2 separate regions of the Homo sapiens genome follow, and region 1 is linked to region 2. Evidence: fine-mapped expression QTL. A gene starts in region 2. The other region holds a variant in brackets. All regions are shown on one strand. Distances are between the middles of the regions. Region 1 holds the start of LOC124904806 (small nucleolar RNA SNORD59). Region 2 holds the start of UBAP2L (ubiquitin associated protein 2 like).

The links.
Region 1: its variant is fine-mapped to the expression of UBAP2L in blood mononuclear cells (TOPMed, PIP 0.95).

The regions. Positions count from the first base shown.
Region 1 is chr1:154,274,000-154,289,937 of GRCh38, reverse strand. HAX1 (HCLS1 associated protein X-1) reads right to left here. Exons shown (of 7, transcript NM_006118.4): 4 at 14,937-14,988; 5 at 14,678-14,784; 6 at 14,455-14,545; 7 at 14,063-14,322. The coding sequence ends at 14,237. LOC124904806 (small nucleolar RNA SNORD59) reads right to left here and starts at 1,478; the gene lies at 1,411-1,478. The variant T/G (reference allele first, on the strand shown) is at 8,753.
Region 2 is chr1:154,211,877-154,227,814 of GRCh38, reverse strand. It overlaps UBAP2L (ubiquitin associated protein 2 like), which reads right to left and starts at 6,860. Exons shown (of 27, transcript NM_014847.4): 1 at 6,840-6,860; 2 at 2,602-2,731; 3 at 456-533. The coding sequence starts at 2,691. LTAP1 (lipid transport auxiliary protein 1) reads left to right here and starts at 7,225. Exons shown (of 7, transcript NM_001098616.3): 1 at 7,225-7,473; 2 at 7,878-7,979; 3 at 13,241-13,358; 4 at 13,869-13,922; 5 at 15,191-15,357; 6 at 15,437-15,495. The coding sequence starts at 7,408. RefSeq lists silencers at 6,687-6,836, 7,697-7,766 and enhancers at 6,357-7,104, 7,087-7,526, 7,105-7,852.

The DNA.
Region 1 (15,938 bases), 62 kb before region 2:
ATTGAGCTTCCACAAATAATGCTGTGATAAATATTCTTGCATGTGACCCCTTATGAATCTAGACACAAGTTTCTCTGTAACGTATATGAAGGAGTTGAGGACTAAACTCTAATTTTTTTTATCTTGCCCAAATTCCTATCTAAGGGATCTGGGGAGTCATGACCTACAAATCATAAATTCTCATCAGATAGGTTTTATTTAACCCTATATATCATGATTTACTTTCCAACCTGACTCTGGTATAACATTACGAGACAAAGAAGAAAATCAAAATATTTTACCCCAAAACATGTTTCTTTGTCATATTTTAAAATGCCCCTGCAAAGCTGTTCTTTGTGGGGAAAATCTACATCCATAAAGAATCTCTATTAACATAGCCAGGGCTGGGGGCGGTGTCTCATGCTTGTAATCCCAGCACTTTGGGAGGCTGAGGCAGGAAAATCACTTGAACCCAAGAGTTGGAGGCTGCAGTGAGTGGAGATCGCGCCATTGCACTCCAGCTTGGGAGACAGAGCGAGGCTCCATCTCAAAAAAAAAATATATATATATATATATATTTATACATAAATACATATATATAAAAATACATATACATATACATATATATAAATATATATATGTGTATATATATATACATCTTTTTCTTCCAGATCCTCCCAATCCTAAAGAGACTAACTGAGATCTGAATAGGAAACATTTGTCACCTATTGTCTCCAAGGCAGCCATTATGAGACTTCAAAAGAGCTTTGGTCTCCACAATCTTTATCTTAACCTGAACATTCCCTTTCTATCTATCCCAGCTCTTTAGACAACCTTAACCAATTGTCAACCAGAAAACATTTAAATTCACCTATAGCCTCGAAGCCCCCACTTTGAGTTGTTCCACCTTTCTAGACCAAACCAATGTATGTCTTAAATGTATTTAATTGATGTGTCATTCTTCTCTAAAGTGTATAAAACCAAGCTGCACTCCAACCACTTTGTGCACAGGTTCTCAGGACTTCCTGAGGGTTGTGTCACAGGCCATGGTCAGTCATCTTTGAGTCAGAATAAATCTCTTCAAATATTTTACAGAGTTCCACTCTTTTGGTCGACAGAGTAGAATTGCTGGGTCATAGAGCATGTGCATATTTAATTTCACAAAGCTCTGCCAGATTCTTTACTACAAAAATGGAAACGGCTGCATGTCTCACACTCCAGGAGTACAGCAGGGATTTGTTTCCTCTCATCTTGGATCTTGCTAATATTTGGTATTACCGGACTAATTTTTGCCTACCTGATGGGTGTAAAGTGGTATCTCATTATTATTTTAATGTGCATTTTTCTGATTGCGTTCAAGGTAGAGGATTAATTTATACTGTTGGTATTCAGATTTCCCCTTCTGTGATTGCTTACCATGTTTATTTTTTTCCTTCCCAGGAATGGCATCTGGGTTCAGCAAACTCAGAATGAAAGTCAGAAGCTACTCATCAGTGAGTGCTTAATCATGTTTTTTACCTATTTTCTTTTTTTCTTTTTCTTTTTTTTTTATTGATCATTCTTGGGTGTTTCTCGCAGAGGGGGATTTGGCAGGGTCACAGGACAATAGTGGAGGGAAGGTCAGCAGATAAACAAGTGAACAAAGGTCTCTGGTTTTCCTAGGCAGAGGACCCTGCGGCCTTCCGCAGTGTTTGTGTCCCTGGGTACTTGAGATTGGGGAGTGGTGATGACTCTTAAAGAGCATGCTGCCTTCAAGCATCTGTTTAACAAAGCACATCTTGCACCGCCCTTAATCCATTCAACCCTGAGTGGATACAGCACCTGTTTCAGAGAGCACAGGGTTGGGGGTAAGGTCACAGATCTACAGGATCCCAAGGCAGAAGAATTTTTCTTAGTACAGAACAAAATGAAAAGTCTCCCATGTCTACCTCTTTCTACACAGACACGGCAACCATCCGATTTCTCAATCTTTTCCCCACCTTTCCCCCCTTTCTATTCCACAAAACCGCCATTATCATCATGGCCCGTTCTCAATGAGCTGTTGGGTACACCTCCCAGACGGGGTGGTGGCCGGGCAGAGGGGCTCCTTACTTCCCAGTAGGGGCGGCGGGGCAGAGGCGCCCCTCACCTCCCGGACGGGGCGGCTGGCCGGGCGGGGGGCTGACCCCCCACCTCCCGCCCGGACGGGGCGGCTGCCGGGCAGAGACGCTCCTCACTTCCCAGACGGGGTGGCTGCTGGGCGGAGGGGCTCCTCACTTCTCAGACCGGGCGGCTGCCGGGCGGAGGGGCTCCTCACTTCTCAGACGGGGCGGTTGCCAGGCAGAGGGTCTCCTCACTTCTCAGACGGGGCGGCCGGGCAGAGACGCTCCTCACATCCCGGACGGGGCGGCAGGGCAGAGGTGCTCCCCACATCTCAGACGATGGGTGGCCGGGCAGAGACGCTCCTCACTTCCCAGATGGGATGGCGGCCGGGAAGAGGCGCTCCTCACTTCCTAGATGGGATGGCGGCCGGGCAGAGACCCTCCTCACTTTCCAGACTAGGCAGCCAGGCAGAGGGGCTCCTCACATCCCAGACGATGGGCGGCCGGGCAGAGACGCTCCTCACTTCCCAGACGGGGTGGCGGCCGGGCAGAGGCTGCAATCTCGGCACTTTGGGAGGCCAAGGCAGGCTGCTGGGAGGTGGAGGTTGTAGCGAGCCGAGATCACTCCACTGCACTCCAGCCTGGGCACCATTGAGCACTGAGTGAAGGAGACTCCGTCTGCAATCCCGGCACCTCGGGAGGCCGAGGCTGGTGGATCACTCGCGGTTAGGAGCTGGAGACCAGCCTAGCCAACACAGCGAAACCCCATCTCCACCAAAAAAATACGAAAACCAGTCAGGCATGGCGGCGTGCGCCTGCAATCACAGGCATTCGGCAGGCTGAGGCAGGAGAATCAGGAAGGGAGGTTGCAGTGAGCCGAGATGGCAGCAGTACCGTCCAGCTTTGGCTCGACATCAGAGGGAGACCGTGGAAAGAGAGGGAGAGGGAGACCGTGGGGAGAGGGAGAGGGAGAGGGAGCCCTATTTTCTTGCTTTTAGTTTAGTGCCTTATTGATTTGAGGAGTGGGTTGTGTGGTCTAGATATTAACCCATTGCTTGCTTTAAATTTTGCAAACTCCGCCCTAGGTCTATTCACTATTACCTTTGATTATAGTTTCCATTATTGAGCAGGATTATTTAATTATATATATATATACAGGGTTTCGTCACCCAGGCTGGAGTGCAATGGTACGTTCTTGGCTCACTGCAACCTCCACCTCCCTGGCTCAAGTGACCCTCCCGCCTCAGCCTCCGAAGTAGCTGGGACCACAGGCACGTGCCACCATGCCCAGCTAATTTTTTGTATTTTTGGTAGAGATGGGGTTTCACCATGTTGCCCAGGCTGGTCTCAAACTCCTGAGCTTAAGCAGTCTGCCCACTTCAGCCTCCCAAAATGCTGGGATTACAGGCGTGAGCCACCACATTCAGCCCTTAATTTTTTTTTTTTTTTTTTTGAATCAGAGTTCCGCTCTTGTTTTCCAGGCTAGAGTGCAAAGGTGCAATCTCGGTTCACCACAACCTCCACCTCCCAGGTTCAAGCGATTCTCTTGCCTCAGCCTCCCGAGTAGCTGGGATTACAGGCATGCGCCACCATGCCTGGCTAATTTTTGTATTTTTAGTAGAGACGGGGTTTCACCATGTTGGTCAGGCTGGTCTCGAACTCCTGACCTCAGGTCATCTACCCGCCTAGGCCTCCCAAAGGGCTGGGATTACAGGTGTGAGCCACCATGCCTGGCCCCTTAATTTTGATATAAAAAATTAACCCATTGTCTGACTTATGGTTTGTATTTTGGGGTCTTATTTAAGAAGCCCTCCTTTGCCTCAAAGTCAGAAAGAACACAGGTTCTTCTATTACCACTATAGATTTGAGGCAGGAAAATAGGGTCTGGAGGCAGGGAACATAAGGCCAATTCACACTTCAGCTATGACAGGAAATAACCTCTCCATAGGGCCTAGGCCAAGTAAATGACTTTGTAACTTTACTTCATCCTCTCCATTTACATAGGGTGTACACCACATAACCAATGGAAACCTCTAGAGTGGTATTTAGACTCCCAAATATTTTGTAACAGGGCCTTTGAGCCCCTATGCTCGGGCCTGCTCCCACACTGTGGAGTGTACTTTCATTTTCAATAAACCCCTTCATTCCTTCCTTGCTTTGTTTGTGCATTTAGTCCAATTCTTCTTTCAAGACGCCAAGAACCTGGACACTCTCCACCATTAACAGTTTCACCTATAAGCTTTGTATTTCCAATCCATCTGAACTGGCATGCATGTAATTTTCTTTTCTTCCAGTTTTTCCAAAATCATCTCTTAAAACAATCCATCCAGGCTGGGCATGGTGGCTCACGCCTGTAATCCCAGCACTTTGGGAGGCCAAGATGGGTGGATCACAAGGGAAGGAGTTTGAGACCAGCCTGGCCAACACGGTGAAACTTCATCTCTACTGAAAATACAAAATATATATATATATATATTAGCCGGGCATGGTGGCGCACACCTGCAATCCCAGCTTCTCAAGAGGCTGAGGCAGGAGAATTGCTTGAATTCGGGAGGCAGAGGTTGCAGTGAGCCAAGATTGCACCACTGCACTCCGGCCTGGGCGACAGAGCAAGATTCTGTCTCGAAAAGAAAAAAAACAATCCATTCTTCCTCCACTGGTCTGTTGTATCAACCCTGTCAAATGTCAAGACTGCTATAAATGTATTTTCTTTACATTAACTCACTTTTTTTGCATTACATTTATAAATTTAAATTTTTAATTTATTGCTAATATATGGATTTTTTTTTTTTTGAGATGGAGTCTCGCTCTCTCACCCAGGCTGTAGTACAATGGCACAATCTCTGCTCACTGCAACCTCCGCCTCCCGGGTTCAACAGTTCCCCAGCCTCAGCCTCCCAAGTAGCTGGGACTACAGGCTTGCGCCACTGTGCCTGGCTAATTTTTTGTATTTTTAGTAGAGACAGGGTTTCGCCATGTTGGCCAAGCTGGTCTCAAACTCCTAACCTCAGGTGATCCACCTGCCTTGGCCTCCCAAAGTGCTGGGATTACAGGTGTAAGCCACTGTGCCCGGCTACATGGATATATCAAGAGTGAAATAATTAAACATTTTTCTTTTCTGTTTTTTTATTTCTTTCTTTTTTTCTTTTTTTTTGGAGGGGGGGATAGGATCTTGCTCTGTCATCCAGGCTGCAGTACAGTGGTCTAGTAATAGCTCACTGCAGCCTCAGTCTCCTGGGATCAAGTGATCCTCTTGCTTCAGCCTCCCCAGTAGCTGGAACTACAGGCATATGCCACCACGCCCAGCTAATATTTTTTGTTTAGACAGGGCTCTAAAAGGGCTGGGATTATAATCATGAGCCACTGTACCAGGACAAAGTCAAATAATTCTACAACACATGAAAAATAGCAGCTTCCTGACTTCAGTGTCAATATGGTCCATCCTTTTCCAATCCCCAGAGGCAACTATTACCAACTTTTTTTTTTTTTTTTTGAGACAGAGTCTCCTTCGGTGGCCTGGGCTGAAGTGCAGTGGTGTGATCTCGGCTCACTGCAACCTCCATTTCCTGGGTTCAATTGATTCTCGTGCCTCAGCCTCCTGAATAACTGGGACTCCAGGTGTGCACCACCACACCCAGCTAATTTTTGTATTTTTAGTAGAGATGGGGTTTCTTCATGTTGGCCAGACTGGTCTTGAACTCCTGGCCTCAGGTGATCCATCTGCCTTGGCCTCCCAAAGTGCTGGGATTACAGGCGTGAGCCACCAGCCCTGGCCAACCATTACCAACTTTTAAAATATTTTCTTTAATATTTACCATTATATACCTAAATATGCTTACAGTGATACTTACTTTTTGTTTTAGAAACTAACTATTGGCCGGGCGCAGTGGCTCACGCCTGTAATCCCAGCACTTTGGGAGGCCGAGGCGGGCGGATCACGAGGTCAGGAGATCGAGACCATCCTGGCTAACATGGTGAAACCCTGTCTCTACTAAAAATACAAAAAATTAGCCAGGCGTGGTGGCGGGTGCCTGTAGTCCCAGCTACCCGGGAGGCTGAGGCAGGAGAATGGCATGAACCTGGGAGGCAGAGCTTGCAGTGAGCCAAGATTGTGCCACTGCACTCCAGCCTGGGGGACAGAGCATGAGACTGCATCTCAAAAAAAAAAAGAAAAAAAGAAACTAATTATTGTGTTTACAGTATGGAAGATAAGGATTTAGTTACATATTGCACTGCCCACAACAAATATATGCATTGGTTCCTCCATCTTCCCAATGTAGACAAGTACTTTTTATTTTTATTTTATTTATTTATTTATTTATTTATTTATTTATTTATTTTTATTTTTATTTTTTTTTTGAGACGGAGTCTCGCTCTGTCACCCAGGCTGGAGTGCAGTGTTGCAATCTCGGCTCACTGCAACCTCCGACTCCCGGGTTCAAGTGATTCTCCTGCCTCAACCTCCCGAGTAGCTGGGATTACAGGCACGTGCCACCACGCCTGGCTAATTTTTGTATTTTTTTGTAGAGATGGGGTTTCACCTTGTTGGCCAGGCTGGTTTCAAACTCCTGACCTCAGGTGATCCTCCTGCCTTGGCCTCCCAAAGTGTTGGAATTACAGGCATGAGCCACTGTGCCCAGCCAACTACATTGTTATTAACTGTAGTCACCATGATGTACAATAGATCTCTTGAACTTATTCCTCCTGTCCAACTGAAATTTGGTATCCATTGACCAATGTCTCCCCAGCATTCACCACCCCCTAGTCTCTGGTAGCCACCATTCTACTCTCTACCTGCATGAGGTTTTTTTAAGATTCCATATATAAGTGGGATCATGTGGTATTTGTCTTTCTGTGCCTGGCTTACTTCACTTAACATAATGTGCTCTAGGTTCATCGATGTTGTAAATGACAGGATCTCATTCTTTGTTTTCTATTTTTTCTGTAAAGAATGTCTTTATTTTAGAGATGACGTCTCGCTATGTTGCCCAGGCTGACCTTGAACTCCCTGGCTCAAGCAATCTTCCTGCCTCAGCCTCCTGAGTAGCTGAGACAACATGAGCATGCTACCGAGCCAGGCTTCATTCCTTTGTAAGGCTGAATAGTACTGCATTGTGTATATATGCCACATTTTCTTTATCCATTAACCCACTGCAGGAGACTTGGGTTGATTCCTACTCTCAGCTATTGTGAACAGTACTGCAGTGAACATGGCAGTGCAGGTATCTCTTCAACATACTGATTTCAGTTGCCTTGAATATATACCTAGTAGCTGGATTGCTGGATCTCCATTGTCTTATACTTTGTGTTGCTGATAAAGTTTGAGAATATTATGATTCTTGATCCTTTAGGTTATTTTGTTATCCACTGACACAGCCCTCAGGAGATCCTGAGAACATGTGCCCCATTTTTCTTTCTCTCTCCCTCTAGAATCTTTTAAACTCTGTTGTCTCCAGTGTTCTAAAATTTCATATGGCATGCCTTAGAGTGGGTTTATTTTCACCCTTGGTGTCTGGCATGTGGCAAGTCCTTTCAGGTTAGAAAGTAATATCCTTCAGGCCGGGCACAGTGGCTCTTTCCTGTAATTCCAGCACTTTGAGAGGTCGAGGTGGGAGGATAACTTCAGCCCAGGAGTTGGAGACCAGCCAGGGCAACATGGCAAGACCACCGTCTCTACCAAAAACAAAACAAAACAAAACAAAACAAAAAACAAAAAACAAAAATTAGTCGGGTGTGGTGGTGCACACCTATAGTCCCAGCCACTCAGGCTGAGGCAGGAGGATTGCTTGAGCCCAGGAATTCGAGGCTGCAATGAGCTATGATTGTGCCACTGCACTCCAATCTGGGTGACAGAGTGAGATTCTGTCTCAAAAAAAATTAAGTAATATTCTTCAATTCTGGAATATTTTCATGACTTATTTCATTGATAATTTATGCCGTTCTAGTTTTATGTTTTTCTTTCTTTTCTTTTCTTTTTTCTTTTTTTTTTTTTTTGAGATGGAGTCTCACTCTCTCTCCCAGGCTGGAGTGCAGTGGCGTGATCTCGGTTCACTGCAAACTCCACCTCCTGGGTTCACGCCATTCTCCTGCTTCAGCCTCCCAAGTAGCTGGGACTACAGGCACTCGCCCCCACGCCCAGCTAATTTTTTGTATATTTAGTAGAGATGGGGTTTCGCCGTGTTATACAGGATGGTCTCGATCTCCTGATCTCATGATCCGCCCGCCGCGGCCTCCCAAAGTGCTGGGATTATAGGCGTGAGTCACTGCGTCCAGCCTTTTTTCTCTTATTTTTTGATCAGTTATTTTGTTTACTTTGTGGAGAGTTCAACTTTGGAGAGTTGAACTCTATCACATTTGTGGGTTTTATTTCTGTTTTTAGAGACAGAGTCTCACTCTGTCACCCAGGCTGGAGTGCAGTGGCACAATCATAGCTCATTGCAGTTTTGAACTCCTGGACTCAAGCGATCCTCCTACCTCAGCCTTCCCAGTAGCAGGGACTACAGTGTGCACCACCCTGCCTGGCTAATCTTTAATTTTTTGTAGAGACGGGTCTCACTATGTTGCCCAGACTGTCTCCAACTCCTGGGCTAAAGCCATTCTCTCCCTTCAGCCTTCCAAACTGTTGGGATTACAGGCATGAGCCACTGCACCCGGCCAAGTACATACATCTTTATAGTGCTTAGAAATATGAA[T/G]CAATAGGCTAGGTGCAGTGGCTCATGCCTGTAATCCCAGCACTTTGGGAGGCCAAGGTGGGTGGATTACTTGAGGTCAGGAGTTCAAGACCAGCCTGGCCAACATGGTGAAAGCCTGTCTCCATTAAAAACTCAGAAATGTAGGCTGGGCGCAGTAGCACATGCCTGTTATTCCAACATTTTGGGAGGCCGAGGCGGGCATCTGAGGTCAGGAATTCAAGAGCCTGGCCAACATGGTGAAACCCCGTCTCTACTAAAAATACAAAAATTAGCCAGGCGTGGTGGTATGCACCTGTAATCCCAGCTACTTGAGAAGCTGAGGCAGGAGAATGACTTGAACTCGGGAGGCGAAGGTTGCAGTGAGCCAAGATCGTGCCATTACACTCCAGCTTGGGCAACAGAGTGAGACTGTCTCAAAAAAAAAAAAAAACAAATTGCCGGGTGTGGTGGCTTGAGCCTGTAGTCCCAGCTACTCGGGAGGCTCAGGCAGGAGAATCGCCTGAGCCTCCACTTACAGGTGGAGGTTGCAGTGAGATGAGATTGTACCACTGCCCTCCAGCCTGGGAAACAGAGCAAGACTCCATCTAAAAAAAAAATTGTGTACATTTAAAGTTTTTAATCTCTCTGCATAGTCTCTGTTTCTTTCAAGTTGTTTCGTTTGTCTCTACCACTCATGTTAAATGCTTTCTTCACATATCTGGTGATTTTTAGCTCCATTTATATTTGTGATGGTACTCTAAAAAGCTGATTAGAAAAAACAATTGTATTTTTATACAATAGAAGGGTTAAAAAATAATAAAAAGGTAGGAAGACTGGTTTTACTAAATAAAACTATAGTATTTTAAGGTATGATATGGGCACAAATATAGACAAATAGACTAATAGAATAGAAAGACCCAGCACAGTTGTGTGTGTGCATGTGTGTGTGTTGTTGTTGCTATTGTTTTGGGGCTGTTTTAGTTATTTATTTATTTTTACCTGGGATTACAGGTGCCCACCACCATGCCCGGCTAATTTTGTATTTTTAGTAGAGATGGGGTTTCACTGTGCTAGCCAGGCTGGTTTTGAACTCCTGACCTCAGGTAATCCACCTGCCTCAGCCTCCCAAAGTGCTGAGATTACAGGCGTGACCCACCGTACCCGGCCTATTTATTTATTTACTTATTTATTTATTTATTTATTTTTGAGGCAGAGTCTCACCTCTCGCCCAGGCTGGAGTGCAGTGGCATGATCTCTGCTTACTGCAACCTCTGCCTCCTGGGTTCAAGCGATTCTCCTGCCTCAGCCTCCTGAGTAGCTGGGATTACAGGTATGCGCCACCACACCTGGCTAATTTTTGTATTTTTAGTAGAGACGAGGTTTCGCCATGTTGGTCAGGCTGGTCTTGAACTCCTGACCTCGTGATCCCCCCGCCTTGGCCTCCGAAAGTGCTGGGATTACAGGCATGAGCCACCGCACCCAGCCTATTTATTTTTTGAGATAGGGTCTTGCTCTGACACCCTGGAGTGCAGTGGCGTGATCATGGCTCACTGCAGCCTCAAACTCCTGGGCTCAAGTGATTCTCCTGCCCTAGCCTCCCCAGTGGCTGGGATTACAGGCACATGCCACCATGCCCCACTAATTTTTTAATTTTTATTTTGTACAGATGGTGGGGGGGTCTCACTTTGTTGCCCAGGCTGGTCTTAAACTCCTGTGCTCAAGCAGTCCTCCCACCTATCCCTCCCAAAGTGCTGGAATTACCAGCGGGAGACACAGTGCCCAACCTTGTTTTTTAAAAAGAAATATTTATATATTTGTGCATATTTTTTCCAAATTGGACCCAAATTAATACCATATACAAACAAAAATTCCAGGTAGGTCTAAAAACCTAAACGTAAAACACAAACTTATAAAGATAAATTAGGCTACAATAAATCAACTTCTGTTCACCAAAAGATACAATAGAGAATTAAAAGACAGAGCTTCATTACTATCATCTCCTGTCCTTTGTTCTTGTGATATACCTCTTTAGAGAAATCCCTTTGTCATAATTTAGTGGGATTTCCAGAGGAAACAGAAGTAAATAAATATGTCAGATTTACCACTCTCTTTTTTTTTTTTTGAGATGGAATTTCACTTTTGTCGCCCAGGCTGAAGTGCAGTGGCACAATCTCTGCTCACTGCAACCTCCACCTCCTGGGTTCAAGAGGGTCTCCTGCCTTAGCCTCCCTAGTAGCTGGGATTACAGGCGCCCACCCCCACACCCAGCTAATTTTTTGTATTTTTAGTAGAGACGGGATTTCACTATATTGGCCAGGCTGGCCTCGAACTCCTCACCTCAGGCTATCCACCCGCCTCAGCCTCCCAAAGTGCTGGGATTACAGGCGTGAGCCACCATGCCCGGCCACCACTCTTTTTTTTTTTAAATATTTATTTTTTATTTTATATTTTGAGACGGAGTCTTGCTCTGTTACCCAGGCTGGAGTGTATGGTGCAATCTCGGCTCACTGCAACCTCTGCCTCCCGGGTTCAAGTGATTCTCATGCCTCAGCCTTCCGAGTAGCTGAGATTACAGGCCCGTACTACCTTGCCTGGCTAATTTTTGTATTTTTAGCAGAGACAGCAAGTTATCCGCCCATCTTGGCCTCCCAAAGTACTGGGATTACAGGCGCGAGCCACCACTCTCGGCCTTTTTTTTTGAGACAGTCTCACTTTGTTGCCCAGGCTGGAGTGCAGCAGCATGGTCATGGCTCACTGCATCCTTGACCTCATGGGCTCGACAACGTCCCACCTCAGACCCCTGAGTAGCTGGGACTACAGGCATGCACCACCATGCCCAGCTAATTTTTAAATTTTTTTGTAGAGACAGGGTTTCCCTATGTTGCCCAGGCTGGTCTCAATTGATCCTCTCCGCTCAGCTTCCCAAAGTGCTGAGATTACAGGTGTGAGCCACTGTGACTGGCCCCAGATTTGCCCCTCTTAACCACAGTACTAAAAGCTTTTGTTGTTGTGATTGGGTCTCACTCTGTCGCCCAGGCTGGAATGCAGTGGTGTGATCATAGATCACCGCAGCCTCGAACTCCAGCCTCCAGGGATCCTCCTGTTTTAGCCTCCTGAATAGCTGAGACTACAGATGTGGGCCACCATGCTCAGCTAATTTATTTATTTATGTTTTTTGAGATGGAGTCTCGCTCTGTCAACCAGGCTGGAGTGCAGCAGCACAATCTCAGCTCACTGCAACTTCCACCCCCTGGGTTCAAATGATCCTCCCGCCTCAGCCTCCTAAGTAGCTGGGATTACAAGTGTGCACTACCACACCCAGCTGATTTTTGTATTTTTAGTAGAGTTGGGGTTTCACCATGTTGGCCAGGCTGGTCTCGAACTCCTGACGTCAAGTGATCTGCCCACCTTGGCCTCCCAAAGTGTTGGGATTACAAGTGTGAACCACAGTGCCCAGCCTGCTTGAACTCCTGACCTCAAGTGATCCACCCGCCTCAGCCTCCCAAAGTGCTGGGATTATAGGTGTGAGCAACGATGCCCAGCCTGCTCAGCCAATTTTTAAAAAATATTTTGCGGGGCGTGGTGGCTTACGCCTGTAATCCCAGCACTTTGGGAGGCTGAGGCAGGCGGATCACAAGGTCAAGAGATCGAGACCAGCTTGGCCAACATGGTGAAACCCTGTCTCTACTAAAAATACAAAAATTAGCTGGGCGTGGTAGCACGTGCCTGTAGTCCCAGCTACTCGGGAGGCTGAGGCAGGAGAATCACTTGAACGCGGGAGGCAGAGGTTGCAGTGAGCCGAGATTGCGCCACTGCACTCCAGCCTGGGTGACAAAGCGAGAGTCCATCTCAAAAAAAAAAAAAAAAAAAAAAATATATATATATATATATATATATTTTAGAAATAGGATCTTGCTATGTTGCCTCCGCCTCCTGGGCTCAAGTAATCCTCCTATCTCAGCCTCCCAAGTAGCTAGGATGATAGGTACAGTCTAACACACCTGGTTAAAAACTTTTATAATGAGAAAAGGAAGCCTGGGCAACATGGCAAAACTCCGTCTCTACAAAAAATACAAAATAATAATAATAATAAAAGGAAAAAAAACGAGAAAAAAAATTAGCTAGGCATGGTGGTGTACGCCTGTAGTCCCAGCTACTCAGGAGGCTGAGGTGGGAGGACTGAGCCCAGGTCGAGGCTACAGTGGGCCAACATCGCCCCCTACACTCCAGCCTGTGTGACAGAATGAGACCCTGCCTCAAAAAGAAAAAAGGACCTAGTAACGTTTGTGCCAGGTGTATTTTCTCTAACATACATAACAATTTTTTGAGATGGAATTTCGTTCTTGTTGCTCAAGCTGGAGTGCAATGGCATGATCATGGCTCACTGCAACCTCCACCTCCTGAGTTCCAGCAATTCTCCTACCTCAGCCTCCCAAGTAGCTGGGATTACAAACATGTGCCACCACATCTGGCTAATTTTTGTATTTTTAGTAGAGACAGGGTTTCACCGTATTGGTCAGGCTAATCTCGAACTCCTGACTTCATGTGATCCATCTGCCTCGGCCTCCCAAAGTGCTGGGATTACAGGCGTGAGCCACCACACCCAGCCACATAACAACTTTTTAAGGCCAGTAAAGTAAGGGAAATTTACCCATGTGCTTCCCCAGTTACTTCATGAACTCTCCAGTCAGTGATCCCACACTCAGGGAAGCAGTTAACCCCTACTTCCACACCCACACCCTTTTTTTGGGAATCTGATGTATCCCTCTCTAGAAATTTTCCTGAAATTATTTCTAGTCATCTCCTCAGTAAGAAAAATCATTTTTCTTTTTCTTTTCTTTTCTTTTTTTTTTTTTTTTTTTTTTTTGAGATGGAGTTTCACTCTTGTCGCCCACGCTGGAGTGCAATGGCGTGATCTCGGCTCATTGCAACCTCCTCCTACCAGGTTCAAGCGATTCTCCTGCCCTAGCCTGGGATTACAGGCACCCGCCACCATGCCCAGCTAATTTTTGTATTTTTAGTAGAGACAGAGTTTCACCACATTGGCCAGGCTGGTCTTGAACTCCTGACCTCAGGTTATCTGCCTGTCTCAGCCTCCCAAAGTGCTGGGATTACAGGCATGAGCCAACGAGCCCGGCCTCTTTTTTTTTTTTTCTTGCTTGAGAAAGAAAAATCATTTTCTACTTGTGCCTGACCCTTACTTATGAAATCAGGTTTTAGATGCAGAATAAAAAATTAAGGAATAAGGAGAAGGCAGAGGACCAAGATAATTTCGGAAGTGTTGGATGGTTCTAGAAACTGAAATAGCCTTGACAAAACCAAGACAAAAAATTAGCATAAATAAAGGTTTTATTGGTCAGTTTGGGTGAGTGACAAACTGACATGGCCCCAGTTCACTATTCCACATATCCAAGCCCCTGAGGTGGCAAGAGAAGCTAAGCTTATTAATGGTGGGCAATGGGTGAGAGGTGGAAAGGACTTGAAGGCCTCTGAGGGTTAACAAGGCTACCGGGACCGGAACCAACGTCCCAGGAATAAGTCCAGGATGGAAAAGGCATCATCCAGGGCTGGAGGTCTTGGTGATTCTGGATCTAAGGAAGAAAGTCATACACGTAAATAGGCTAAATGAAAGAGACTAGGCAGAAGCAAAGGACAAGGGTAGAAGAGTAAGATTTCCCTTCCCCAAGGAATCTTGAGATGAACCCCTTTGTCTTTTAACTTACCACCCCTAGGACTGCTATCTGCTTCGTGTCGGGTTACTGTAGTCTCTGTCCGGCCCTCACTGTCCACCACAGTCCGGCGCTCCTCCACTATCTACAAAGAGAAGTCCCCACCATATTCCGAATGTTACTAAAGGTTATGCTCAGCAGTTTCTTTACACAGATCCCTGTTTCAGGGCATTCGTTCCCTGGCCATACTTTCCTTTACCTCTTTCTTTCAACTCACCCCATCTGGTTTAGTGATCTTGGTCACAGAGATGCTCTTGAAATAGGATTTGGGCTGGGGCTGTAGAACCGGGCCAAGACCCTCCTGGGAAACCTGGGAATCAAGATCTGGAAGAGCAGAGAGATGAAGAAGCAGGAGAGAAAGAGTCCAAAGGAAAAAAGGAGACAAGTGTACAGGAAGAAACTTCAGGGAGGGAGAACACACAGAACTTCAGAAGAATAACAAAAGGCTGGTAAACTTCCCCTTCCTCCAGACTTACCATTGTCCTCTCTGGTTCTAGGATGGGGGTCCATAGGCCATACATCATCAAACTGCAGAAGAAACCATAGTAAGTGAAAAGACTCCTTCCAATCTGAAATTTGAAAGGTCATAGACCTCAAACTACTCCCGAGCTCCAAAACCCCCTTCCACAGAAGAGATAATTCCATTCAGAATAGCCTTATTTACACACTCCTTCCTGGCTGTTTTATGTATCCTTCTACCAGAAAGACTTCCTGAACTGATATATTCCTATCCTCTGTGCACAATCCTGCCTTATCCAAGAATTATCTAGACCAGTGGTGTTTTTTTGTTTTTGTTTTTTAAAAGAAACAGAACACCCATCTCCCCCCAAAGAAAATCCCACAAGCTTAATATAGAAAACAGAAAACACTAAATGGAGGGCTTAGGATTCCAACCCAAGGCTATCAGATTCAAACAAGAATTGCAATCTTTGGCCAGGCATGATGGCTCACACTTGTAATTCCAGCACTTTGGGAGGCCGAGGTGGGTGGATCACCTGAGGTCAGGAGCTCAAAAGCAGCCTGGCCAACACGGTGAAACGCCATCTCTACTAAAAACACAAAAATTAGCTGGGCGTTTGGCAGGCGACTGTAATCCCAGCTACTCAGGAGGCTGAGGCAGGAGAATCACTTGAACCTGGGAATTGGAGGTTGCAGTGAGCTGAGATTGTGCCACGGCACTACAGCCTGGGCAACAGAGCAAGGCTGGGTCTCAAACAATTTTTGAGATGGAGTCTCCACCTCCTGGGTTCAACCAATTCTCCTGCCTCAGCCTCCTGAGTAGCTGGCATTACAGGCACCTGCCACCATGCCCGGCTAATTTTTTGTATTTTTAGTAGACACGGGGTTTCACCATGTTGACCAGGCTGGTCTCCAACTCCTGACCTCTGGTGATCTGCCCACCTCGGCCTCCCAAAGTGCTGGGATTACAGGCGTGAGCCACCGCACCTAGCCAGTCTTTGCACTTTATTAGTGGTCTC
Region 2 (15,938 bases):
GCACTTTGGGAGGCTGAGGCAGGCAGATCACTTGAGGTCAGGAGTTCGAGACCAGCCTGGCCAACATGGTGAAACCCCATCTTTACTAAAAATACAAAAAATTAGCCAGGCATGGTGGTGAGCGCCTGTAATCCCAACTACTCGGGAGGCTGAAGCACGAGAATCGCTTGAACTCGGGAGGCAGAAGCTGCAATGAGCCAAGATCATGCCACTGCACTCCAGCCTGGGTGACAGAGTGAGACTTCATCTGAAAAAAAAACAAAAAACAAAACAAAGGGCTACAAAAAATTAGAGAATGAAAGCACTTATTTATTGGCCTGACCTATTATATTTCAGGTCAAAATTCTTTCAATACCTATAGTAGAAAGTATCCTGGCATCCATCTACAGTATTTGATTATGCCTTAATACTGGTATCTTTTCTCATAGTGTACAGTAAATTAGTGATACACTCACTTGTTTCACCTTCTCCTCAAAGTCAGCATCATTATGGTCCGAAATCATCTGTGCAAGTCTAATTTGTTCTGCAGTGGCCTAGGAATTGAGATGAGATCAAGAAAGCATAATCATGAGGCAACAGTTTAGAGAACAGGAACCTATTTCGTCAGCCTCCACTGCCCCAATTTTCTTTTCCTTGTAACAAATGAGCAAGTAATAAAGCACCATTTAGGACGCTTAATGGGGGATCAGGGATAGGTGCGGGTGGTGGCTCACGCCTGTAATTCCACACTTTGGGAGCCCAAGGCAGACAGATCACCTGATGTGAGTAGTTTGAGACCAGCCTGGCCAACATGGCAAAACCCCGTCTCTACTAAAAATACAAAAATTAGCCGGGTGTGGTGGTGCACACCTGTAGGTCCAGCTACTCGGGAGGCTGAGGCAGGAGAATTGCTTGAATCTGGGAGGAGGAGGTTGCAGTGAACTGAGATAGTGGCACTGCACTCCAGCCTAAGTGATAGAGCAAGACTCCACCTCAAAAAAAAAGATGCTTAAATCAGTAAAATGACAAAAAATTGAGTGAAACTGTTACAGAAAGAGTAAGGAACTCATTCACCAATCTTCACAGTTAAAGGGACTTCCGTCTTAGAATCACAGAACCGCTCTGAAACATCTGCCCCTTAATTCATATTAAGTCACAAAGCCATGTGTAAACTCTATTCTTATTTCTGTAATAACCAACGCCATCCTCTTATTCCTAGAGCTTAGAATACAAGTCTGACAATAGACTCAACACATCTTCTATATATCCAGTGTATGTTCAGATACTAGGAATTTTACTGCCCCAACTAAGTATTATAATTCTACTAGAAATCCACTTGAAAACACAGATGAAAGAAAAATGCGTAAGGGGGATGTCCTAATCTTACATATTCGATTTATCTGACCATAATCAAATATAAGTAATTCATTCACATTACATACCAACTAACATCAACCTGGTATGAGAAACAGAATATATCTACATCAAAGTTAATATCCAAGAGGTTAATTTACTCTTTAAAACTTAAAATTGAGCAATGCTCTAAGGTGTTTCATTTAATTTTGAAGAAACATAGTGAAGTTGCCAGCTCCTCATGGGAAAGGAATAATCAGGTAAGGTCTCAATGGAACCAGAGAGGAAAATAAAAGACAAGTTGGGGAAAAGAGGAGCAAAGGATAAAATCTGGAATGGAAAAGGCTTGCTAGAGAGGTATCAAGGTGGGGCAGGGCACAGCGGCTCATGCCTATAATCCCAGTACTCTGGGAGGCCGAGGCAGGTGGATCACCTGAGGGCAGGAGTTCGAGACCAGCCTGACCAACACGGTGAAACCCTGTCTCTACTAAAAATACAAAAATTAGCTGGGCATGGTAGCACACTCCTGTAATCCCAGCTACTCAGAAAGCTGAGGCAGGAGAATTGCTTGAACCTGGAAGGCAGAGGTTGCAGTGAGCCGAAGTGGCGCCATTGCACTCAAGCCTGGGCAACAGAGCGAGACTCCGTCTCAAAAACAAAAGAGAGAGATATCAAGGTGGAAGGTCTAAGAAATAGAAAGGTATTGCTAAAATGGCCCAGGTAAGAGAAGGGAAATGCTATCTTAAGAGTTATAGAGCCGGGCAGTGACTCACACCTATAATCCCATGAGTTCAAGACCAGCCTGGGCAATGCAGCAAGACTACCATCTCTACAAGAATTTTAAAATTAGCCTGGCATGGTAGTGTGCACTGGTAGTCCCAGCTACTCAGGAGGCTGAGGCGGGAGGATCACTTAAGCCCCAGAGGTTGAGGCTACAAATGAATGGTGACTGTGCCACTGCACTTTGACCTAGGCAAAGGGAGCTCCTATCTTAAAACAAAACAAAAAAAAAAAAGATAAAAAGCACAGGACCCATAATAAAGTGCTAAGCCTCATAATACAGTATTAAACAACAAAAAAGTAAGCATCTTGCCTTACAGCATGTCATGAACAGTTATCAGGACCTAAGTAAAAAAAGAGCCAAGGACTAGAAAACAAAAATAAGGAACCTAAACCAACAGTTCAAAGCACAGAATGATGCTGTACTGCATGGAAACCAGTATCAGCAGGCAACGCTATCCATGAATCCGTATGCCTTGGATTATTTACCTGTGGCCGCTGCTTGTGCTGTGTCTGGTTTTGGTTTTGAGGTTGTTCCCAGTTTCCCCGGGCTCGGTTAGTGCCCACCGATGTCATCATTTACAGTATATACAAATAACAGTATTTACAAGGTAGAATACTGAAAGATTTAAAAGAAAATTAGGTATTAAATGTGGGCAAAATATGTTTTTAACTCTCTCATCAGCACCTTCACCACCAAACACTTTCACTTCTTCAAAGGAACAAATCAATAAGATTCATTTATTCTTACAACATAATTAGCTTGATAAATTCCTTAAGGAGCTATGGCTGTTAATCCATTTTTATGTAACAAGAAATGTATAAAGCATGTGTAAGTGATGGATTTTTTTAAGAAGTTACAGCAGTTTGGTTACTAGTCCCCCATAAGCAGACTTTACATTTAACTAATAATCAAAAGCCTTTTACATAGATGCAAGTATCTGAAGTACCTTTGACAGAAGGAAAGATAATCAGTAAAGTCTGGAAACAAAAACCTTCCAGGAAGGAGATTAGTCTACACTCCAGAGAAATAATTTTAAATACTGTATTCAATCACCTAAGAAAACAGCCTTACCTGCCTTACAACCTTTTTTATGTAAGCTGCATGTGACCTCCATTGCTTGGGAAAGGACAAGTTCAAGTCTAGACTCTTCTTTGTCCCTCAAGTTTCATCTCTCTCAGTATGCTATGGGTTTGTTTTGTGTTTGTGGGGGTTTTTTGTTTTTTTAAACCACAGCCTTCAACAGGGTACGTATTAGCCCCAATGACTTTGTCCAGAATCTCTGTTCTCTGGAAAATAATTCCAACACACTGCTTTTACAGGTGCTTCTCTTGGTCTCCTAGTCCACATTTTCAAGAAACCAAAATGGCAATTACCCTCCACCACTCACCTTAATATACAGGGAATCTCAAATTTGTCTCAAACCAAAAGCATCTAGCACAAAGTTTTATTTGGAAGAAAGTGCTTCTAAGAAATCATTTTAAACTTGAGACCTTAATGCTGGCAAGATGACTTAGTTGAGTCTTTAAAGAGACACAGAACACACAGGGCCTTCCCCAAACCAGAATATAGTTTTTGTTACAAGACTTCTAACAAGGAAGGATTCTACTGAATTCAAGTTCCTTTAGTTCATACTTTGTTTTATAATACAATCTCAGCTGCTGCATTTAGTAAAAAAGAAAACATTAATCATATGATAGAGTGTTCAAAATAATAGGTTACTCTGCATTTATTCCCTTCCAAAGAGGGTAAGTTTATACTTTTCTGCTCTATATTTAATTTTTCTTGTTAATGAAACCTTATACAACGTAATTCTAGACTGCCCAGAGATATTACTGGATTTGAGTGGGAGGAAGGACTTCTAAAGAAATATGCAAGGATTAACTATTAGGGAAGTGAATTTCATCTGACTTTCTTGGATGTCACAGAGAAAGCTGACTTTTTCTGTGCATAAATTCTTCACCAAGTTGCGTCAATAGGTTGCATAGGTCTTTGTATCAAGAAAGATTTTTTTAAGGTAGCTTCTCAGGTAATTTTTAACCCATTACCTCTTCCCCCTACACATATTGGCACACAAAAGCCCATAAGTATTTCAAGCTAGAAAGGATTATTTGCTACACAGTAGCCCATTTTCCCAGGTTAGCATTATAGTCGTTTCAACTTTACAAAAAAAAAAAATGTTTAACCAAGTACCCCGAATCCAAATCAACAAGACTACATATACACATATATACGTATATATATAAAGACGAGAGGAAAACTATTTTGTTTTAAAATTGGCTCTAAGATGAAGTTTCTAATATGGCATAGTCATTTCCAACCCACTACTGTAACTTACAAATATTGACTGTTTTCTACTCCACATGTGATATCTATTTGTGAGGATAAGTTATATTGCAGGTATAAACTGCATGACTAGCTATACACTATTGCATATACTGTACCAGTCAGATGTAAACATATTAAAAAGTCATCTTGAAAGATATAATTAACCAAGAAAGAAAAAAATTCTCCTAATCACTCTTGCTAGTAACATTTCCCTCTTACAAGTGCTTCGAAATGTGACTAAGAAAATTTTTACCACCTAGTAGTGACAACACTGAGCAACAGGTCAAAAGTAAGTGATCTGGAATGGATCACTTGAGGGCACAGAATTAGTAGCAAGCAGACCCATTCCCAGCTATCACACTGGAGATGAAGAATCTTGTTACTTACTTGCTCTTTCTTAGAAAATAAAAAGATTTAAAGGAAGTAGGGTGAGAAGTATTGGAGACCAAGGAAATCGTGCGAGAGTAAACAGAGGTTTCAACACAGGAGTGCCCTTGACTCTTTTTTGAAAACTAGCTACTTAAAAAAATAGCCAGAGAAATTTCACTGAAAAAACTAAATAACAAATATTTATTGAGAATCTACTATGTGTCCAATACTTCAGGAAAATACAAAAGCAGTATGACTTAGTAGCTGCCCTCAGGGAGCTTACAATCTAATTTAAGAAACAATTCAGAAACTGAAGCTAGACTGAGTTGGGTAAAATTTGCTACCTCTAACAGAACAACTAATTTCTGTAGATGCTTTGTTGAAATGGCCCCTGCATCCCCTTCCCCACCACCTTGATATCTAGTTAGTAAGAGTACTTCCCAGTTAGGACATAGCAAGGAGGAGCTTTAAAGATGAAAAACAAAACAGGACATTTTTAGGCCTTTCATCACTAGTTTATGTGCCAGCAATATTTCCCATTCACAAAGGAAACAATCATTGAGATAGTCTAATCTTTAAGGACAATGGTGTCAGATCTCAAAGCAGTTTTATCAACTGATACACAGCCAAAATGTTTTAATTCTCTGTAATCATTGGGATAGTCTAATCTTTAAGTACAATGGAGACAGATCTCAAAGCAGTTTTATCAACTGATACACAGCCAAAATGTTTTAATTCTCTAGAAACGCTGGTTACTAGTAATGTCCATCACCTCCCAGCAAGTCACATCAGGTATCCCCAAAACAGGATATGCGGCGGAGGAAGGTAGGATGGGAGAGAAGACAAAAAAAAAGGATTTCTCCATTTAATAATCAGGGAGAGTCAAAGGCAAAAACGTTAACAATAATAACAAAAACGCCTGTTACTGTGGTGTTTTTCTTTCCACAACATCCTACACCAGAGGTGGCTACATTTCAAGAATGGTGGAAAAGGAGCAGTCTCCAGTTTGTGACATCAGTTTGCAAAGCAATTTAAGGGCTGTCCACAAGGTTAAGGGTTTGAAGAAACTGGGCATTCCTGTACCATTATGAGAAGAGTGAACAAATACCCCAGTGCTCTAGTGACGTCCCTTAAGCGTAAATACACCCTATGGGGGCCTCCATGTCCAGCTTCCCAAATAACACAATTGTTTGGGGTACCCAAACTACAGTATAAACAGGAAGCTAAAGACAGCAGCAAAAACATATTCCAAGAACTGGGTTGGTGAGAAAGAAGGGAGGGTAATAAGAGGAGCTGACAAAGAGCCTGGAAACGGAGAGGGGACGCAAGCCCACGGGTGGAGGATGGGAGGCTCACCCCCCTCAGCGCCACATCGAGAGCCCACGGGGCCAATCTCCTCCCTACCTCCCAGCCGGAACAAATTAATCCTTCGCACACCAAACTGAGGGCCACATGGGGGAGTTTGGGGGAGCTCCACCCCATCGCCCTCCCTCCCCCACGCCACCCCCAAACCAGGCCGGATCCGGATCAGAGGAGGCCCGCAGTGGGTGGAAAGGGAGGAGGCCCTCTCCTCCGCAGGCACCGGCCGGGGTGAAGAGAGAGCCCTACCTCAGGCAAGGCCCAGGCCTCGCTCGCTCGCGCTCTTTCTCGCTCTCCCCTCTCAGGCTCTAGCCGCATGGCCCCCCCTTCCTACGGCTGCTCCAAGCCCCGCCCCGGCCACGCTCCCAAATCGAGGCCCCGGCTCTGGCGCGGCCCACTAGGCCGCGAACCCAACCATAAACAAAACCTCCGGGGGCCGACTCGAGGTGGGGGGCGCCAGGGCTCGCATGACTCGGGGGGGGGTGTACAGTGGGGGAACACACGGTGTGGGGGGGCCTACCGAGGGAGGGGATACGGCGGGGGCAGGGGAGAAAAGAGGGAGGGTAAAAGGGGGATCGCGGATTTAAAGGGGCCGCGGACAATACCCGGCCCCGCCGCGCTGCCGCTGCCGCCGCCGCCGCCGCCAACGCCGCTGCGCTCCCAACTTTACCTCAGTCTCCTCCACACTGACACCCCGGGCCGCGCCGCCCCTGTCACGTGATATAAGATTCCCTCTTCCCCACCCCCTCCCTCCTTTTCCCTCTCGCGCTCGCTCTCGCGCCTTCCCCCGCCCACTTGCCTTCCTGCGTCCCTCAGCGCGTGACGCTAAAAGGGGCGCGCACGCAAGCGTGCGCGTGCCGCCTCGCCACGAGACACCTCTTTCCGGCTCCGCGAGTCCACCCCGCCTCCTTCACGGCGGCCCTGCCTCCACCACGTGACGCACGGATGGCCGCCGCTTCCTCTTACTGTCGTAGTTCCGCGTCTGAGCGCTCGACGCTCCTGGGTGCCATTGCCTGCCTGAGTCACGTGTCAGGGGGAAGCTGGAAGGCGTCGTTCTCCTTTCCCAGCTCTCCTGCCTGTCCGCCATGTTTTCAGGCCGGGTCTGGCTTGGTCTTCCCCCGTAAGGAAATGGCCGGGGAGCTCCAGGGGACCCAGGCGCCGTCGCTTCGGCGGAGCCTGGGCTGACCAGCCAGGACAGCGGGGTAAACCCGAACAATTCTGCGCGAGGTAGGGAGGCCATGGCGTCCGGCAGTAACTGGCTCTCCGGGGTGAATGTCGTGCTGGTGATGGCCTACGGGAGCCTGGTGAGGAGATTACCCCACCCCATTCCTGCTGTCGCATCTTACCCAGTAGAGACCCTCCTTTTGAGCTGTACCCCGTCTGCATTCTCCACCCACTCACCTGCGCCTATCCGGGCTTTGACTCCTTATTCCAGGAGTAGGTGGGAGTTTAAGTCACTTAGTCGGGCCGACCCGCCCTCGTTAGTCTAGAACCCTCCCTTTAACGCTAGAGCACAGACCCCACGCCTCCCTGCTGCTGGCTTCTTAGATCCACCCCCATCATAACGGCCTTGCTTTGCCCCAAGTTTTACCCTGAAACATTCCTGAGAGCCGGAATCTGGGGATTTGGAATGAAGGCATGCTTTTTTAAAAAAAAAACAAAACAAAACTGACTTTTTATTAAAGGATTTTTACATCTTTTTGGACAGGTGTTTGTACTGCTATTTATTTTTGTGAAGAGGCAAATCATGCGCTTTGCAATGAAATCTCGAAGGGGACCTCATGTCCCTGTGGGACACAATGCCCCCAAGGTAGGTCCTTAGGGCACAAGTTAAACATACTTCTCCAGATCTTTTAGGGTCAAGAATGAGATTTCCTCTGCCTTTAGTGATGACTTTAATTCTCATGTTTCTTTGCGTGCACTTGTCCTTGTACTTACTAAGTTGAGCAGGCACTGTGCGCTTTGGAACTTGGCTTACCTGCTCAGTGCTGTGGCAAGCATGTGGCTCATCCTGGAACTTCTGTTTTTGTATCTGCAGAATGAAGGGCTTGGGTCGAAGTTCCCAACTGTTTGTAGTAAAATATTTCCCAGCTCATCTTAAACTACCCAGTGTTTTTTGTTTGATTAGGATGGGGTTGAGATCATTAAGGTTAACCCAAGAGCAATGAGAAGGGTTACCTTTACATAATTTTAGACTTAAGAGGAGCTCCATAAATCATCTAATTCCACCATTCATGTTACCAAGAAGCCCAAGAAAAGGAGGCAGTTTACCAGAAGACGTATAGGAAGTGAATAACCCAGTGGTCTTTTATCTTTGTCTGTACTTTCTCCTTAGGTGACTGTCTTCCTTTCCTTGGCTTTAGCTACAGATGAAATTTTATCTCTATCCTAGAACTCTTTCCTGAGTTCCTTACATATATTGCCAACTGATTACCTGACATTTCCACTTAGATTTGTAGTAGACATCTCAAACCCAACATTTGTGAATCAGAATTATTGCTATCCCACTGCCACTCTCATTCTGCTTCTTTAGTCTTTCGCTTCTAAGTAAAAGACACCTGCTTCCCTTACCAACCCCCTTTTGTGTGGCTCTCCCCAGATCACTGGGACCCAGCTCCACTGGCTGAATTTTCCACCCTTTTTGCTCCTGTGATCTGGAATGGTCTTCAATTGGCTAGCTCATTCATTCTTTTGATCTTAGCTTAAATGTTACTTCCAAAAAAGGAATGCTTATTACCTATTTTAAAGTAGGTTCCCCCTCTCTTTATTTTCACATGGTACCCTGATTTTTCCTTCATAGCATTTACCATAATTTTTATGTTTGTCCATTTGTTTAAAACATGCCTCTCTCTTCCGCTAGACCGTAAGCTTCAAGAATGCAGGCACCATGCCAGTTTTGTTCACGACTATAAAGCCAGGACCTACACATAGTAGGTACTCAGTAATTTCTTGTTGAATGAAAAACAGGTTAGTGCCAGGGCCTACACATAGCAGGTACTCTGTAATTTGTTGCTGAATGAAAAACAGGTTAGTTGTAGAGCTAGAGCTCATGACTCCCTCAACTCCTAGAGCACTGTACTTTCATTAACAAGTGCTATTAACCTTCCCCTCTTTGTTCTTTGCTGACATAGTACATGAAAAGGCTCTAGGAGGATGTCCTGGCTTGAAACCTTAACAGTCCTGCCTGCCTCATGAGAAAGACATAGGGTTAGTTTCTAGCACATCATGAACCAATCAATACTTTGGCTATTCAGGGGTCCCTTGGTCTAGTTCAGAGCAATATTCCTTTTGCTTAAAAATTTTTTCTAAATTCTCAACCATTGCTAGTGAAAGTATAAATTAGTAAAACCACTTTGGAAAATAACTGGTCATTGTCTGGTAAGATTGCACATGTACCTAATCCATGGTCCAACAGTTTCTCTCCTACCATAGAGAAATTAAGTTTTGCTCATGTGTACCAAGAAACATGTGCAAGATTATTTATAGGGGCATTGTTCATAATATTTGAAGAAGAAACTTAATTCAAATGTCCACTTTTCAATTATTATATAGGCTGAGTGCAGTGGCTCATACCTGTAGTCCTAGCACTTTGGGAGGCTGAGGCCAGAAGATCATGTGAGCCCAGGAGTTACAGACTGCAGTGAGCTATGATTGCACTGATGCACTCCAGCATGGGCAAGAGCAAGACCTTGTTTCTAAAAAATAGGTAGTGGTATATTCATATTCTGGAATAGTGTAAAAAATGAAAAACTGAAGATAAATATATGAAGACAAGTCCTCAAAATACTTCTGAATGAAAAAAATTGCAAACATGAATCTCAAAAACATGCTGAGTGGGCCGGGCATGGTAGCTCATGCCGGTAATCCCAGCACTTAGGGAGGCCGAGTTGGGCAGATAACACTTGAGGTCAGGAGTTCGAGACCAGACCAGCCAACATGGTGAAACCCAATCTCTACTAAAAATACAAGAAAAAAATCCTAACTACTCGGGACGCTGAGGTAGGAGAATCCCTTGAACCCAGGTGGCAGAGGTTGTAGTAAGCTGAGATCAAACCACTGCACTCCAGCCTGGGTGACAGAGCGAGACTCTGTCTCACCAAAAACAAAAAAACCATGCTGAGTGAAGAAAGCCAAAATGCCGTTCACAAGAGAATATGTACCATGTGCTTCCACCCCATTTATATGAAATTCTAGAACAGGCAGAACTGTAAAAGAGTACATCATGTTGCCTGGGCTGGGAGAGGGGAGATTTCCAGGTGATGAAAATATTCTTTACTTTGATTGACGTGGTGGTGAAGGGGGTATGTTCATTTGTCAAACTCATCAATTTATATACATAAAATGAATGCATTTATTGTATGTAAATTCAACCTCAATAAAGTATATTTGAAAAATTTTGCTGGGTGCGGTGGCTAACGCCTGTAATCCCAGCACTTTGGGAGGCTGAGGCAGGTGGATCACCTGAGGTCAGGAGTTCAAGACCAGCCTGGCCAACACGGTGAAACCCCGACTGTACTAAAAATGCAAAAAAATTAGCTGGGCGTGGCGGTGTGTGCCTGTAATCCCAGCTACTCAGGAGGCTGAGGCAGGAGAATCACTTGAGCCCCGGCGGAGGTTGCAGTGAGCAGAGATCACACCATTGCACTCCAGCCTGGGTGACAGAGTGAGTCTCTGTATCAAAAAAAAAAAAAATTTAAGGCCAGGCGAGGTGGTTTACACCTGTAATCCTAGCACTTTGGGAGGCCGAGGCAGGCTGATCACGTCAGCTCAGGAGTTCGAGACCAGCGTAGGCAATATGGGGAAACCCTGTCTCTATAAAAAGTTTAAAAATGGGCCAGGCGCGGTGGTTCACGCCTGTAATCCCAGCACTTTGGGAGGCCCACATGAGAAGATCACAAGGTCAGGAGTTTGAGACCAGCCTGGCGAGCATGGTGAGACCCCATCTCTACGAAAAATACAAAAAATTAGCTGGGCATGGTGGCATGCGCCTGTAGTCCCAGCTACTTGGGAGGCTGAGGCAGGAGGGCAAGGAGAATTGCTTGAACCCAGCAGGCAGAGGTTGCAATGAGCCAAGATCATGCCACTGTACTCCAGTCTGGGTGACAGAGCAAGACTCCATCTCAAAAAAAAAAAATGTTTAATAATTAGCCATGCATGGTGGTGTGTGCCTGTAACCCCAGCTACTCAGGAGGCTAAGGCAGGAGGATCATCTGAGCTCAGGAGGTGGAGGTTATAGTGAGCTGAGATTGTGCCATTGCACTCCAGCCTGGGTGACAGAGTGTGACCCTGTCTCAAAAAAAAAAAATTTTTTTTTTAAACAAGTTGCAGAGGGATTCTTAAAGTATTTTTCCATTTGTATCAAGTTGAAAACCAGGCAAAGCTAAGCATCTTTTTTAGGGTGACACGATAAAACAGTGAAGAAGTGTATGAGGACTATTGACAAGTTAAGGTTTGGGGTGCGGAGCATTCAATGAGGGATGGGCACACAAGACTTGAAAGTTAGTGGTAGGGCCGGGCGCGGTGGCTCACGCCTGTAATCCCAGCACTTTGGGAGGCCGAGGCGGGTGGATCATGAGGTCAGCAGATCGAGACCAACCTGGCTAACAAGGTGAAACCCCGTCTCTACTAAAAATACAAAAAATTAGCCAGGCGTGGTGGCGGGCGCCTGTAGTCCCAGCTACTCGGGAGGCTGAGGCAGGAGAATGGCGTGAACCCGGGAGGCGGAGCTTGCAGTGAGCTGAGATTGCGCCACTGCACTCCAGCCTGGGCGACAGAGCGAGACTCCGTCTCAAAAAAAAAAAAAAAGAAAGTTAGTGGTAATGTTCCATTGCATAAACTGGATATTGGTTATAGGTGTTCATTATTATGCTTTTTATAATTATTTAAAATGTACATCTATGTTACCTGTATTTTGTGTATCTTATGTTTCACAATGGGAGTTTGTAAAAAGTTACAACAAAAAATTTATTTCCTGGGGCTCTGGTAACCCTCTTAGGTAAGAGAGATTAATATGAAACTGAAAATAGTAGTTGCTGCTGGGTAACTGAGAGGTGCTACCTTTAGTATCTTTTTTTTTTTTTTTGGAGACGTCTCACTCTGTCACGCAGGCTGGAGTGCAGTGGCGCAATCTCGGCTCACTGCAAGCTCTGCCTCCCGGGTTCACGCCATTCTCCTGCCTCGGCCTCCCGAGTAGCTGGGACTACAGGACCCCGCCACAACGCCCGGCTAATTTTTTGTATTTTTAGTAGAGACAGGGTTTCACCGTGTTAGCCAGGATGGTCTCGATCTCCTGACCTTGTGATCCACCCACCTCGGCCTCCCAAAGTGTTGGGATTACAGGCGTGAGCCACAGCACCCGGCCCCTTTACTATCTTTAAAATTTGTATACCATGAATTTGACTTGGCTATTTTAAAAGAAATATGTGTTAATTTTTTTTTAAAGTAGCCTCTAGCTAGGTGCATACCTGTAATCCTAGCTGCTCAGAAGGCTGAGGCAAGAGAGGCTGGGCGCAGTAGCTCACACCTGTAATCCCAGCACTTTGGGAGGCCAAGGCAGGCGGATCACTTGAGGTCAGGAGTTTGAGACCAGCCTGGCCAACATGGTGAAACCCCATCTCTACTAAGAATAGAAAAATTAGCCAGACATGGTCGTACGCGCCTATAATCCCAGCTACTCTGGAGGCTGAGGCAGGAGAATTGCTTGAACCTGGGAGGCGGAGGTTGCAGTGAACTGAGATTGCGCCACTGCACTCCAGCCTGGGTGATAGAGCAAGACTCTGTCTCAAAAAAAAAAAAAAAAAATTGGAAATAATGTTGGTGCTGTATAGCTTGAAGGATTTCTGGCACAAGTTAAATGTTCTAGCTTAGAGATGTGCAGCTTGGAGAGGTTATTGGAAAACCCAATCCCGTTCTTTCCTAAATTCTTACCTCTTATCTGGTAATTTTATTAACTACATGAGCATGGTCTCTATTTCTGTTGTCTTAGTTATTCATTAACTCTGCCCCATTTTCACATTGGTGGAAAGCAGAGTGCAGGGTAAATGATTGTGTATTCTTTTTTTATGTGAACAGGACTTGAAAGAGGAGATTGATATTCGACTCTCCAGGGTTCAGGATATCAAGTATGAGCCCCAGCTCCTTGCAGATGATGATGCTAGACTACTACAACTGGAAACCCAGGGAAATCAAAGTATGTGGCAAGCTCTTGGAATGCTTCAGTGAGGAGTCCCACAAGTCCAGAATTCCTTTTCTCTCAGAGTTGTCAAAAGCTGCTGGCAAAGCCTTAGTTATTCCTGTTATTGGATATATGTTAGATGCAGAGCCCATTTATTAGCTTGCTGGAGTTTGGGGAATTTTTTTTTTCTTTTTTGAGATGGAGTTTCACTCTTGTTGCCCAGGCTGGAGTGCAATGGTGCAGTCTCAGCTCACTGCAACCTCCACCCCCTTGTTCAAGCAATTCTTCTACCTCAGCCTCCTGAGTAGCTGGGATTACAGGCATGCGCCACCACGCCTGGCTAATTTTGTGTTTTTACTAGAGACGGGGTTTCTCCATGTTGGTCAGGCTGGTCTCAAACTCCTGACCTCAGGTGATCCACCCACCTCAGCCTCCCAAAGTGTTGGGATTACAGGCATGAGCCACCACGCCCAGCCTGGGGAATATTTTTAGGGTTATGCCTAACACCAGTCTTTTCCTCAACAGGTTGCTACAACTATCTGTATAGGATGAAAGCTCTGGATGCCATTCGTACCTCTGGTAAGGGCTACCTGACAGGGTCCATTCTAGGATCCTGAAAGCCCACCTAGGGAACAGAGTAATGAACCCACTTTGTATGTTAGGATTTGTCCTTTCTGCACATCCCTGGCTAGTAGGAAATTCTAGAGTTTTGAAAGTACTAGATTAGAGATTTTGCTGAAGGAAATGATATAAGCAGGTTATTCTCCAAAGAGTCTGGGTGTTTTGTTTTTTAAAGTTCTTCTCTTGAGACCTTTAGTTTCATGAAGTAGATGATAGTAATTTGCTTGTTTTTCCACAAAGGACAGGTGGCACCTGCTTTTTCACTAAGCCCAAGATAGATTGTTCTTGAATTTTTTCCATTCTGTCAACACTTGTCATATATGCTTTATCTCTATGAAAACAGTTTATATCTTAAACCTAGGATGGATGAGTAAGCAGGATGGTAAAATGTGTGATGACACTATCATGTGTCATAGATGTAGCTTACAACTGTGGTGTTACCACCAAATGACCACTCAGGCACAGCTTTATACCTTTGGTCTCAATCAGAATCTCCCTCTAACTCAACTTGCTCATTTCATTAGACCTATTTCTTTTTATTTTTGAGACGGAGTCTTGCTCTGTTGCCCAGGCTGGAGTGCAGTAGCACGATCTTGGCTCACCACAACCTCCACCTCCTGGGTTCAAGCGGTTCTCCTGCCTCAGCCTCCCGAGTAGCTGGGATTACAGGTACCTACCACCATGCCTGGTTAATTTTTGTATTTTTAGTAGGGACAGGTTTTCACCATGTTGGCCAGGCTGGTCTCAAACTCCTGACCTCAGGTGATCTGCCTGCCCCGGCCTCCCAAATTGCTGTAATTACAGGCGTGAGCCACTGCGCCCAGCTTCATTAGACCTACTTCTAAGTTTGGGGAATTAACTAGAAAGACTAAAGAATGGGGCAGGCGCAGTGGCTCATGCCTGTAATCCCAACGCTTTGGGAGGGCGAGGCAGACAGATCACAGGAGGCCAGGAGTTCAAGACCAACCTAGCCAACAAGGTGAAACCCTTTTGTATTTTTGTCTCTACTAAAAATACAAAAATAAGCCTGGCATGGTGGTGCACATCTGTAATCCCAGCTAATCAGGAGGCTGAGACTAGAGAATTGCTCAAACCTAGGAGGTGGAGGTTGCAGTGAGCCAAGATCACTGCCACTGCACTCCAGCCCGGGTGACAGAGCGAGACTCCATCTCAAAAAAAAAGACTAAAGAATGAGAAGAGATATCATTGTGCTGTTTTCTCCACAGAGATCCCATTTCATTCTGAAGGCCGGCATCCCCGTTCCTTAATGGGCAAGAATTTCCGCTCCTACCTGCTGGATCTGCGAAACACTAGTACGCCTTTCAAGGGTGTACGCAAAGCACTCATTGATACCCTTTTGGATGGCTATGAAACAGCCCGCTATGGGACAGGGGTAAGCCAGTTTTTTCTTCGGGGCACTAAAGAGATCCCTCAGACTGAGAGATCCTCACTCTTCCTTTCTCTTTCCTAAGGTCTTTGGCCAGAATGAGTACCTACGCTATCAGGAGGCCCTGAGTGAGCTGGCCACTGCGTGAGTTTGGAGGGGAACGTGTCAGAGGGAGCTGGTACAGTAGTGTTGGACTGTTGCCACAGTGCAGTGACCTTCATAAAGCATATAAACAAAATCCATGATACCATAAGAGTTGTCAGGTTCTAGACTATTAGATCAGTCTCTTACATTAGAAAGCAGATGCGGCCGGGCACAGTGGTTCACGCCTATAATCCCAGCACTTTGGGAGGCCGAGGCGGGAGGATCATCTGAGGTTGGGAATCCGAGACCAGCCTGACCAACATGGAGAAACCCCGTTCTCTACTAAAAATACAAAATTAGCCGGGCGTGGTGGCGCATGCCTGTAATCCTAGCTTCTGGGGAGGCTGAGGCAGGAGAATCTCTTGAACCCGGGAGGCGGAGGTTGCGGTGAGCCAAGATCGTGCCATTATACTCCAGCCTGGGCAACAAAAGTGAAACTCTGT